Linked DNA regions of Homo sapiens: all the other regions are reported to be linked to region 1. Evidence: microRNA targets listed by miRTarBase, many of them from high-throughput screens and not tested one by one. Region 1 holds a microRNA gene; each other region holds the end of a gene's coding sequence.
What was found. The annotated mature microRNA hsa-miR-4789-5p reads GUAUACACCUGAUAUGUGUAUG and lies in region 1 at 2,215-2,236, shown strand. An mRNA with a match to its seed (bases 2 to 7 or 8) in the 3' UTR can be bound and repressed. Matches are read on the target gene's strand: a 7mer-m8 pairs with bases 2 to 8, a 7mer-A1 pairs with bases 2 to 7 and ends in A, and an 8mer does both.

Region 1 (4,153 bases):
TGCGGGCTCTTTTTTGCTTCCATATGAACTTTAAAGAGTTGTTTCCGATTCTGTGAAGAAAGTCATTGGTAGCTTGATGGGGATGGCATTGAATCTATAAATTACCTGGGGCAATACGGCCATTTTCACGATACTGATTCTTCCTACCCATGAGCATGGAATGTTCTTCCATTTGTTTGTGTCCTCTTTTATTTCCTTGAGCAGTGGTTTGTAGTTCTCCTTGAAGAGGTCCTCCACGTCCCTTGTAAGTTGGATTCCTAAGTATTTTATTCTCTTTGAAGCAATTGTGAATGGGAGTTCACTCATGATTTGGCTCTCTGTCTGTTATTGGTGTATAAGAATGCTTGTGATTTTTGTACATGGATTTTGTATCCTGAAACTTTGCTGAAGTTGCTTATCAGCTTAAGGAGATTTTGGGCTGAGACAATGGGGTTTTCTAGATGTACAATCATGTTGTCTGCAAACAGGGACAGTTTGACTTCCTCTTTTCCTAACTGAATACCCTTTATTTCCTTCTCCTGCCTGATTGCCCTGGCCAGAACTTCCAACACTATGTTGAATAGGAGAGGTGAGAGAGGGCATCCCTGTCTTGTGCCAGTTTTCAAAGGGAATGCTTCCAGTTTTTGCCCATTCATTATGATATTGGCTGTGGGTTTGTCATAGATAGCTCTTATTATTTTGAGATACATCCCATCAATACCTAATTTATTGAGAGTTTTTAGCATGAAGCGTTGTTGAATTTTGTCAAAGGCCTTTTCTGCATCTATTGAGATAATCATGTGGTTTTTGTCTTTGGTTCTGTTTATACGCTGGATTACATTTATTGATTTGCGTATATTGAACCAGCCTTGCATCCCAGGGATGAAGCCCACTTGATCATGGTGGATAAGCTTTTTGATGTGCTGCTGGATTCGGGTTGCCAGTATTTTATTGAGGATTTTTGCATCAATGTTCATCAAGGATATTGGTCTAAAATTCTCTTTTTTGGTTGTGTCTCTGCCTGGCTTTGGTATCAGGATGATGCTGGCCTCATAAAATGAGTTAGGGAGGTTTCCCTCTTTTTCTATTGATTGGAATAGTTTCAGAAGGAATGGTACCAGTTCCTCCTTGTACCTCTGGTAGAATTCGGCTGTGAATCCATCTGGTCCGAAAATAGTTACATTTTACAAACGAATCTCTAACACATTTTGGTATCTTTTTTTATACTTTGAAAGGACTGTAGCAGGTGTGTGTGAGTGTGTGTGTGTGTGTGTGTGTGTTTATAGCCAGTATGTATATATGTAGCAAATACGTTCATGTGCCATTTAATAATGGAGATGCTTTCTGAGAAATGCATCATTAGGTGACTTCATTGTTGAGAGAACATCATAGAGTGCACATAACACAAACACATTGTGTAGCCTCCTAAACAACTAGGTTATGTCGTATAGCTTATTACTTCTAAGCTACAAACCTGCATAGCATGTTATTGTACTGAACACTGTAGGCAATTACAATGCAGTGGTATTTGTATATCTAAACATATCTAAACACAGAAAAGGTACAGCGAAATATGATATAAAAGATTAAAAAAAATTGCCACCCCTGTATAGGGCACTTTTCATGGAACTTGTGGGAGTAGAAGTTGCTCTGGGTGGATCTGTGAATGAGCAGTGAGCAAATGTGAAGGCCTAAGACGTTACTATGCATTACTGTAGGCTTTATAAACACTGTACACTTAGGTTACACTAAATTTGTTTTAAAAATTAAGTAATTGCACTAATGTCACAATGAGAACAATGCCACTAGAGTTTTTCAGCTCCACTATAATCTATGGAACCACCCTCATGTATGTGATTTGTTCTTGAGCAAAATGTCATCATGCAGCACCTGACTGTATATATATGTAGCAAGTATGTGTGTGCCTGTGTGCGCGTGTGTATATATAAATGTTACATTTACATACACCTGATATGTGCATGTGTAATTATATATGTAACAAGTATGTGTGTGCCTGTGTGCGTGTGTGTACATATACATGTTACATTTACATACACCTGATATGTGCATGTATACATATATAGGTAACAAGTATGTGTGTGCCTGTGTGCGTGTGTGTACATATACATGTTACATTTACATACACCTGATATGTGCATGTATACATATATAGGTAACAAGTATGTGTGTGCCTGTGTGCGTGTGTGTGTATGTGTATATATACATGCTACGTATGTATACACCTGATATGTGTATGTGTAAATACATATCCACACACATAGCAGGTGTATATATAGGTAGCCTGTGTGTGTGTGAGTGCATGTGTGTGTATGTGTAGCAGGGGTTTTGTGTTAGAACCAAGAGCTTGGAACTGGTACAATGAAAATATTTTGCCTGAAAGATATGCTTAGTAAAAGTCCCAAGTTTCACACATTTTTGAGGCTCAAAGTGAAGAACTCAAAGTGAATTATTAGGTAATCATATCTACTTCTTCCTAAACCCTTCATCTGATTGTGTGCTAAAATTTAATACTAACTGATCTTTCCATCTCCATAAAATTCTTTGAGATAACAAAATCCTACATTCCGGTTTCTGAAGGATGGTATTCTGCAAATGTGAAAGTTTCCCTTAACCTCCAAAAAATAATTGGGTTAATCCAGCTACCACAAGTGTGAAATTGAGAAGCTGCTTGCTAAGATTGAATTTAATATTGTCACATGTCATCTGAGAGCTGCTTGTCTGATCATGTTGCCACTGGACAAAGTAAGCCTTACTACAAAGGATAAAAGAATGATTATTTCAATATCCAGTCATAGTTCATCATCAAACTCTGAGTAAAATGGAGAAAAAAAGACGTTTTATCTTATATGACTCTATGCATTTCTCTGGGAAGTCATTTATCTGGTTGCTATCCAGGAGAGCAAAGATAATGGGAAAAATCTTCCACTATTCTCAACTATAATTTTAAATATCAAATTTTAATAAAATAGGTTTTGGTTATTTCTTTTAAAAGCCCTCAATATAAGAAAATGAAATGTTAGAAACTTATTTTATAAAATATATTTGTGAACCATAAAACCCCATATAAAATGGAAATTATTATCACCATTAACTACTGATGCTTCTAATCTTATTCTGTAATGGTTAAAAAATGACTAGAATTTAGAGTTACTGCCAATATATGGGGGGGGGAGGGATTTTATAAAAATAGCTTTATTCATTTGCATGTTAAGCAAGAGTGTGATTACTGATGGCCGTAAGAGTCACTTGCTGCTTTAAGCTCTGCTCTGCTGCTGACTCTACATGTGTAGCTTTGAGAGGTCCTTTAGCCCCTCCAGCTTTCCACATAGGCAGGATGTGGCTATTGTACTTGATGATATGCCAAACATGCTTCTGATTCCAACATTCGATGGTTCTGTGATATTTCTACCTTATTACAAAAGACATTCACTTTAAAAGTATAAACACCGTAGTAACTTTTTTTCTTTCATTGTTTTCAATAAAAGGGTAATGGAAGTAAACTGACAAGTTTAGGAGGCTTTCAGAGCATAAAGGAGAAAGGCTGGCAGCTCTTGAGAACCTCTTTGCTTTCAGCTGAGAGCAAGTAGAGAATGCTTGCTCTCTGGCCCTGAATGTCATAACATTATGTTCAGAATCATTGAAATGTCTGACAACACTGTTGATTAAAAATGAGAATCATTAGGCCATGTCTGCCGTTATAGGATGAAGGGTAGTTTGAACAGTATGGAAAAAAACTATCCCAAAAGGATGATTTGTCTTAGACAATATTACCAAAATTTCAAATTATACTATGTATAGTAATTTGCAGTAATTCACTTTTTTTTTATATTTAGCTTCATCTTAAAAGTTCTCCTTCATTGGTAATGCTTTGAAAAATGCTGGATTTAGAATTATGAAGAGACTATCAACTAATATTATGGATGATATTATTATTATTATTATTTTTTGAGACGGAGTACTCGCTCTTTCGCCCAGGCCGGACTGCAGTGGCGCTATCTCGGCTCACTGCAAGCTCCGCCCCCCGGGTTCTCGCCGTTCTCCTGCCTCAGCCTCCTGAGTAGCTGGGATTACAGGCGCCCGCCACCGCGCCCGGCTAATTTTTTGGATTTTTAGTAGAGATGGGGTTTCACCGTGTTAGTCAAGATATGGATAA
Region 2 (4,000 bases), not on the chromosome of region 1:
AGGCTGTCCTTTTCAGGCTCTGCAGGTGAGGCACTTGGCTTTCTGGACCCCGAGATCCTCATCTGTAAAGTGGCAAAAACGATAGAGCCTTTATCCTACATTGTGCCCTGAGGGCTGGCTGGCTTAGTGAGTATCAAGTGCTTAGCACAGTGTCTGGAAGACAGACAGTGCCCAGGAATGGGTGCCTGCAGGCAGTAAAATTATTCTCCCTTTCACTCTTTAAGAGGTGATCCTTTCTGAAGGAGTCCTCTATCTTCTCTCACACTACAGTAGTTGATCTTACCTAAGGATGGGAAAGGGTAAAGGAAAAGGGAAAAAAGCAGAACAGGTAGAGGAGAATATAGGAAGAATCTTGGCCCCCGCCCATCGTCACTCAACACCTTGAGGGCCTGCTGTGAGCTAGAATTCAGGGCTGGGAGTCAGGCTGTGGGATGCTCGACAGGTTGCCTTCAATTCCTCCTCTCTCTCCCCCTTGCTCTCCTAGTCCCCCAGTTCCCTGCCAACCTCATACGTTCTTTTTGGTCTTGCAGAATGTGGGGCAAGCCTGGGAGGTCATGAGCACCCAGACCTGAGTGATGGCAGCCAGCATTTAAACTCCTCTTGCTATCCATCTACGTGTATTACAGACATTCTGCTCAGCTACAAGCACCCCGAAGTCTCCTTCAGCATGGAGCAGGCAGGCGTGTAACAAGAAACAGAGAGTGAGTGTCACCCTGGCCAGAGCCAAACCAGCCCTGTGGCCCAGTGCCTGCTCCCAATCCCATCAGGAGCTTCAGCCCATGTGTTGTGGTGGCCAGTGCAGTCGACAGTACCACGCCTCCCCTCGTGGCCTTCACAGTTTCTTGCTTTTCATTAACGACGCTGCTAGTTTTAGGGCGCGAGGTAGGGGTGGGGGTGTGCAGAAGAAATGCTAAACACAGTCTCTTGGTTCGGTTATGGGAATAAGACACAAGACTCGCCGTGTGTTACAGGTGCTCTAGCCTTCATAGCGACAGAAGTGAGCTACGGCTCCAGAGGATGCAGGTGACCTCCGGTCAGCATAATGAGGAAAGGAGGAAGTCCTTAAACTCAGTCCTAAAAGACAAAACCTGGCAGGAAAATATGTCCAGCCATATTTTTTAAGGCCATACAGAAGCAAGTGGCAGGATATTCCAGATTAGGGAAATGTGTGATGAGAGGCCCATGGTAGAAAGAATGGGGAAATTGGCTTGTTTGGCTGGAGTAATGCAAAGAGTACACAGCAGGCACCATTGGTTGTATCTGGAAAATCCTTGACAGAAGAGGCCTGATGAAAGGGAAGCCACTTGGCAAATCCACATCAGAGCCTCAGTATGGCAAGCTACCTGAACACCTGAGGGAAAGTAAACCCGTTGCATTTTTTAAAAGGTTTTAAATGGAATATTTGAGCCTTTCTCTTTTCAAACTAATTCTCCTCTGTGTCTGCTTTATTCCAGGTTTTGTGTACAGCTTGGGAATGAAAAGGTTGATTGTAAACCCACAGTATCTAGCAGCGTTGTGCCAAATTGCCCTTGTGTTTCTCTCCACCCAAAATATCACAGCTGCTTTCCTCACATTTGGTTCATCCGTGTGCTGTTCTTTTGGGTTCTGAGAGGGTTTTGCCATGTTTGCTTGTATGACCAAGTCACCAAGGAAATAAACAGGAAGGAAATCCATGTTCTCCATCTTTTGTGAAAGTATATTTGAGTTGGTGGTTTTTTGTTTTGTTTGGGGGTTTGTGTTTTGTTTTGTTTTTGGTATGTTTTCTTCCAGAGGTGATATACTTTCTTTTTTTTCTTCCTTTCTTTTTTTTCTTTCGTTCCTTTTTTGAAACAGGAGAGCAAAGCAGTTAGAGTTCAGAGGCCAGCGGCCTCAGGGCCACTCCCTCCCTAGCCTTCATCAGCAGAGCACCCTCCATCCCCCTGCATTGCTCTTCTGTGAAAGCAAATACTAAAGGATGCCATCCTCTGGAATCCTAATGGCAGGCAAAGGGAGAGAGGAAGGGTGACGGCTTCTGGCACTTAGAAAACAAAAAGAACAAAAAAAGAGAAACCCCCAAGCCTGGAACGCAGAGAGGTCTTTACTGCTGGGATCCACGGAAAACATGTCTGTCCTAGCCAAGATCATATGAAGAGTTTGGCACGGAGGCTGAGAATGACCTGGCATAGATGGTTTGCCAGTTAGGATGTCTCAATTTGAGCCTTTGCTTTTGGTGGATAACTCAGCTCCCCTCTTGTAACCTGGAAAGTTGGTTGCCTTTATCATCCTGCTGGTTTTATCCATGGACTGAACACCCAACAGCAGTGCACTATGCTTTCTATGGCATCTTTCATTCTCATTTTATATTGTGCTATAAAAAGGATTGTTTCTCCATATATATATTATATATGTGTGTATATATATAATATAATATATGTGTATATATATATTATATATATAATATATAATATAATATATTATATATATATTATATATATAATATATATATAAAATATATATATATATGCTCTCCTCTTTCAGCCTCTTTGTCACAGGGAAGAAGTGTAGGAGGTTGCCTTGGGCCCTGCCTCTCTCCTAACCTCCTCTTCCCCACTGGGTACCCTCAGCCCCTATATTTTAATTCTTGATCATGTAGAAATTGTTTTTGGTAAATGTTGATATTATTGTTATTATCATTATTAATAAATAAAGAGAAAAGGAATTTTTGTTTAAATGAGAAATGTTTAACCAGATTCTGTTCTATTTGAATTGTGACTTGCACCTTTTGTTCAAAGTATTTCCTTTAGGCATTGTAATTGTGAACAGCTCTTACTTGTGCCAGTGACAGATGCAGTGGTCTCCTTTCCCCAGTTGAAGCAGTGCATACGCAGTAGCTATTATTTGTGTTATCTTTATTTCTCTTCATTGTTAGAAACCAAAGTCTTCTCTGCTGGCTGGGGCTGAGAGAGGGTCTGGGTTATCTCCTTCTGATCTTCAAAACAAGAGAGAGACCTTGAATACACTGACTCTTCCACCCTTTTTTTTTCTGGGAAAGGAGAGCAAGAGGTCCCGAGTCCCCTCCTAGTCTTTCATCCTGAATTTGCACAGAGGAAAGCGGGTGCCCGGCATGGCCATCCTGATGTTGCTGGCGGGATCCCCATGCACCTTGTCCTTCTCCACTGATACTGGCAGCTCGGCTCCTGGACCCAAGATCCCTTGAGTGGAATTCTGCAGTGCAAGAGCCCTTCGTGGGAGCTGTCCCATGTTTCCATGGTCCCCAGTCTCCCCTCCACTTGGTGGGGTCACCAACTACTCACCAGAAGGGGGCTTACCAAGAAAGCCCTAAAAAGCTGTTGACTTATCTGCGCTTGTTCCAACTCTTATGCCCCCAACCTGCCCTACCACCACCACGCGCTCAGCCTGATGTGTTTACATGGTACTGTATGTATGGGAGAGCAGACTGCACCCTCCAGCAACAACAGATGAAAGCCAGTGAGCCTACTAACCGTGCCATCTTGCAAACTACACTTTAAAAAAAACTCATTGCTTTGTATTGTAGTAACCAATATGTGCAGTATACGTTGAATGTATATGAACATACTTTCCTATTTCTGTTCTTTGAAAATGTCAGAAATATTTTTTTCTTTCTCATTTTATGTTGAACTAAAAAGGATTAAAAAAAAAATCTCCAGACTCAAGTTGCTAAGACCTTTTGTCCTGCCTTTTGTCCTTCCTTTTGTGAGGCACTTACTTACAACTTGGTTACTTAGTTGGACAGCAGGAAGTTGTGTAGATAGGAGCCTGATTGTGTTCTTAGGCTGATAGATTATTTGCCTGTGGTTTGGAGTCTAGTTGGAAGAAGCCTCAGGTAGGTGGGAGCTGGAGCAGTGGAGGCTGGAGAGGTCTCCCAGGCTAAGGGTGGGGCTTTGAGTGACTTAAGAAACTCGCATTCTCTAGAAGCCTGAACTCTGCTTCACACTGTGTCCCTGGGCACCCAGCTCGGACTCTGCCCTGTCAGAAGGGA
Region 3 (4,000 bases), not on the chromosome of region 1:
AAGACAGAGGAAACACATCTGACCCAGATTGGTAGGCTTTCCCAGAAAAGTTTATGCCCAAGTATAGTGTTAACAAATAAGAACTTCTCAGGTGAGATAGGGGAGAAGAGTCTGCGAGGAAAACCTGTCTAGCATGGCAAATACGAAGTCCAGAGATGAGAGAAGATGGTCCACGTGGTTTAAAAGTCTACAACAAGGTAAAGGAGGTACACAGTAATTAAAGTAGGAAAGATATGTCAACACCTAAGAATCAGAACTAGTATCTTGAAAAGTTAGGAGCCCTGGGGTTTTGTTTTTGCTTTTGCTTTTAAAGGATGTGTTTGTTCCCTGTATCACCGTGCCCAGCTTACTCCTTTTCTTCGGAAACACTTGGTGCCGTATTGTTACTGGTTGAATCTCTGTGTTTGGTTTTTAATTTGTTATCTTTGCCCCCATGCTTAGGTTTGATGACAAATACACCTTGAAGCTGACCTTCATCAGTGGGAGAACAAAGCAGCAGCGGGAAGCCGAGTTCACAAAGTCCATTGCTAAGTTTTTTGACCACAGTGGGACACTGGTCATGGATGCATATGAGCCTGAAATATCCAGGCTCCATGACAGTCTTGCCATAGAAAGAAAAATAAAGTAGCCAATTCTAAAAGTAGCCCTCTTTCTCCTGGATCTTGCTGAATTAGTGGCTTGGGGGGTGGGGGAGATAAAAAGAACTTAAAATGGGTAAAGTAAGAAATGTTAAAAAGTCCCTGTTTTGTCCTGAAATTTTAGTCTATTCTGGGTAAATAGGATTTTCTGACACAGATATGAGAAGTTGTAGCTCTGATGTCTAGCTGTAGTCTCCTTGATCTGCTGATTGCATTATTTTAATTTGCTTTTCTGGGAAAGCAGTTTTGCTAAAAGCTGTACAGACTTTTTCTTTTGTACCTAGCAGTACTTTATATAGTATAGCTTTGGGCCATGTAGCATTTTAAGACTCAATTTTAAAAAATTATTAATCTGTTGCTGACTCTTAATTCCTATTTCAATATGTGTTTCCTTGAAGAATTCAGGATACAACTTCTTGTGTATGACAGCTTTCCTTCACACACTATTTTTGTGGGTGTGTATATATCTGATTTGGGAAGAATTTAAAAAACACATAGCTTTTTAATTTGTTTGAAACAGACTTTCTGCCTGTTACATTTTTGCTTTTAACCAATTAAAGAAGCCAATGGCATTTTAGTTTTATATTGTGTTTTCCACTAGTATATCCCTGTTGATTTGTTTGTGCCTTTTATTAACTGCCATTTTCTAAAATTTTTTTCAATAAAAGGAAGGAAGATGTGAAAAAAATGGAGTCATAGTTTTGATGGAGAGAACAGAGAAACAAGTGTTAACATCTTTCTACTATAGGTTTTTTTCATTTTTAGGCTATTTTACTTGTCAAAGGCCCCTGAGAACCTGTAGCTAAGGAACTCTTAGCTTTCCAGTGATAATAACAATAATAACAACATTCTGTACTTACTTTGTGCCAGAAATGCTCCAAGTACTTTACATGTGTTAATAATGCTCACAGCAATCCTAAGAGGCAGGTGCTGTTATTATCCCCATTTTACACATGAGGAAACTGAGATACAAAAGTTAAATAATTGTCACACAGCTAGTGATAGAACTGGGATTCAAACCTGGGGAGTCCGGCTTCAGAGTTTGTGGTCCTGCAGAGACAAAACAGCCGCTTTTCCAGTATTTTCCCAGTATGGTCAGAGAAGACCTGGGTGCTTGCCAAGATCCTTTGACCTTTAGGAATATTTCCCTACAGCCTTACAAAACATCAATTTTGGCTGAGCCTAGTACCCAACACTATATTCAGTTTGTAAGAAATTACCATTATCACATTTCCTGTTTGTCTTGGAGAGGTTGTCCTATCTCGCACCACATGGTAGGGAATTGTGAACAACACTGGACAGAAAGTTAAAGCCTTGGATTCTGTACTCTTCATTCCTGTAAACCTTGGGTAAGTTTCGGAATTCTCTGTGAGCTTCTTAAAGTTTTTGAAAGCATGTAACCGGATAAGTGTATTTTTACAATGGAGGAGTTACAGTCATCTTGGTATTTGTGGGAGATTGGTTCCAGGATCCCCAAGCATACCAAAATCCAAGGATGCTCAAGTCCCTTATATAAAATGGTATAGCATTTGCATATAACCTACACACATCCTCCCATATACTTTTAATCACCTCTGGATTACCTATAATACCTAATATAATGTAAATGCTATGTAAATAGTTATACTGCATTGGTTTTTTAATTTATATTTTTTGTTATTTTTTAAAATATATTTTTAATCCATGGTTGGTTAAATCTGTAGATATAGAGGGCCAACTGTACTGTTAGACACAAGGGTCTCGAGGCTTGCAGATAGAGACTGAATAACCCTCTCCATGATGATCCCTTAGAGTTCCCCCACTGTGCCTTTTTCTTTACATGTGCATGCAAACATGTGTCTCCACATACATTTTTTTTAACAAAAATTGAATTATGTTGATATATGTCCTGTAATTTGTGTTTTAAACTTAATATATCTTAGGCATTTTCCCTGTGTGTGTGTATAATGCAGCTATTAAAAATGAGTCTGAGGCCAGGCATGGTGGCTCACGCCTTTAATCCTAGCACTTTGGGAGACCAAGACAGGTAAATCACCTGAGGTCAGGAGTTCGAGACCACCTTGGCCAACATGGTGAAACCACATCTCTACTAAAAATACAAAAAATTGGCTGGGCATGGTGGCAGATGCCTGTAATCCCAGCTACTTGGGAGGCTGAGGCAGGAGAATGGCTTGAACTGGGAGGCGGAGGTTGCAGTGAGCCGAGATCACACCCTGCACTCCAGCCTGGGCAACAAGAGCAAAACTCCGTCTCAAAAAAGAAAAAAAAAAGAGTCTGACATACATATATATAAAAGAAACTGTTCTAAAATACCAGAAGTGCAAAGGCAGGGGACCAATTGCAACAAGTAGCTGGGGTGATAACCCCTATATATATATACACATAGGTCAGTCTCATTTTTAATAGCTACATAATATTCCATAGTATAAGTGATTTTACTTTAATACCCTATTGATGATAATTTTTCCCCAGTTTTTTTCACTATTCCAGGAAGGAGTATGGATTGAGGAGAGGGGAAGAAAATAGGTCCTCAAATGAGAGACAAGAAACCTGGGTTGTTAGCAACTTTTTTCTAATTTGTGACCTTGAATACATCCTATTCCTTTTCTAGGGTGAAGTCTCTTGTTAAAAAAAAAAAGTTTTAGAGAATGTATTTTGAGATTATGAAGACTCCTTATTCCCTGGGAAATAAAAAACATCCCTTATGATTACAAAGAATGTTGGGTGCCATATCCCCAATATCTGCCTATAAGGCTCACTGGAGACTTCTTGGACTACATGGATCTATTTTAAGGTTTTTCCCTGACTCCAGAAACCAGTTGAAGCAGTTTAGATTTGTTGAAGAAGTGGGTTATCAGCCCAGCTACATGTTGCAGTTGGTCCCCTGTCTTTGCACTTGTGGCATTTTAGGAGTGTCTCATCACATGAACAAAAAGTACCCTCTGCAGGCTCAAGCCTCAGCATGGGCACACTTTGTAGAGCTGCAGAGTGCCTCTGGCCAGCTTCTGACACATGCATCTACTGAGTGGCCATTTCAGCCCAGTCCAGAAGGCTGCTGGGCTGCTCTGTACCCTCTAGTAGGTCTGCAACACCCTTGCCACCAGGAAACCCTGACACCCATCACATCATCATGAGTGAAGTTCTCAGTTCCTCACACTTACCTCAGACGGACTTTTTTCTAGAAAATAGAGGGCCACTGAGGACAGTGGAAAAAGATCCTAATGTTTTTTCATTATTTGCAAATTTCAACTGCTAATATGTATTTAATGTTTGTCATGCTTTTATATACGTGTAGAAACAATCTTTGCTTCAGAACAATTTCGGGGAATGGAAGAAGATGCAAAGTCCCTTTGCATACACAC

Region 2: miRTarBase lists SIK3 as a target of hsa-miR-4789-5p. Seed matches in the 3' UTR shown: 7mer-m8 at 2,389-2,395 and 7mer-m8 at 2,413-2,419.
Region 3: the mRNA of SPCS2 is a reported target of hsa-miR-4789-5p. Seed matches in the 3' UTR shown: 7mer-m8 at 1,096-1,102 and 8mer at 2,578-2,585.

The regions. Positions count from the first base shown.
Region 1 is chr3:175,367,338-175,371,490 of GRCh38, forward strand. It overlaps MIR4789 (microRNA 4789), which reads left to right and starts at 2,203; the gene lies at 2,203-2,284. The region is part of intron 5 of NAALADL2 (N-acetylated alpha-linked acidic dipeptidase like 2); the gene reads left to right.
Region 2 is chr11:116,843,084-116,847,083 of GRCh38, reverse strand. It overlaps SIK3 (SIK family kinase 3), which reads left to right. Exons shown (of 25, transcript NM_001366686.3): 24 at 531-701; 25 at 1,455-3,682. The coding sequence ends at 688. It also overlaps APOA1-AS. Among named protein-coding and RNA genes, the nearest start is that of APOA1, 7.5 kb to the right of the region's middle.
Region 3 is chr11:74,976,416-74,980,415 of GRCh38, forward strand. SPCS2 (signal peptidase complex subunit 2) reads left to right here. Exons shown (of 5, transcript NM_014752.3): 5 at 442-2,618. The coding sequence ends at 628. Among named protein-coding and RNA genes, the nearest start is that of NEU3, 11 kb to the right of the region's middle.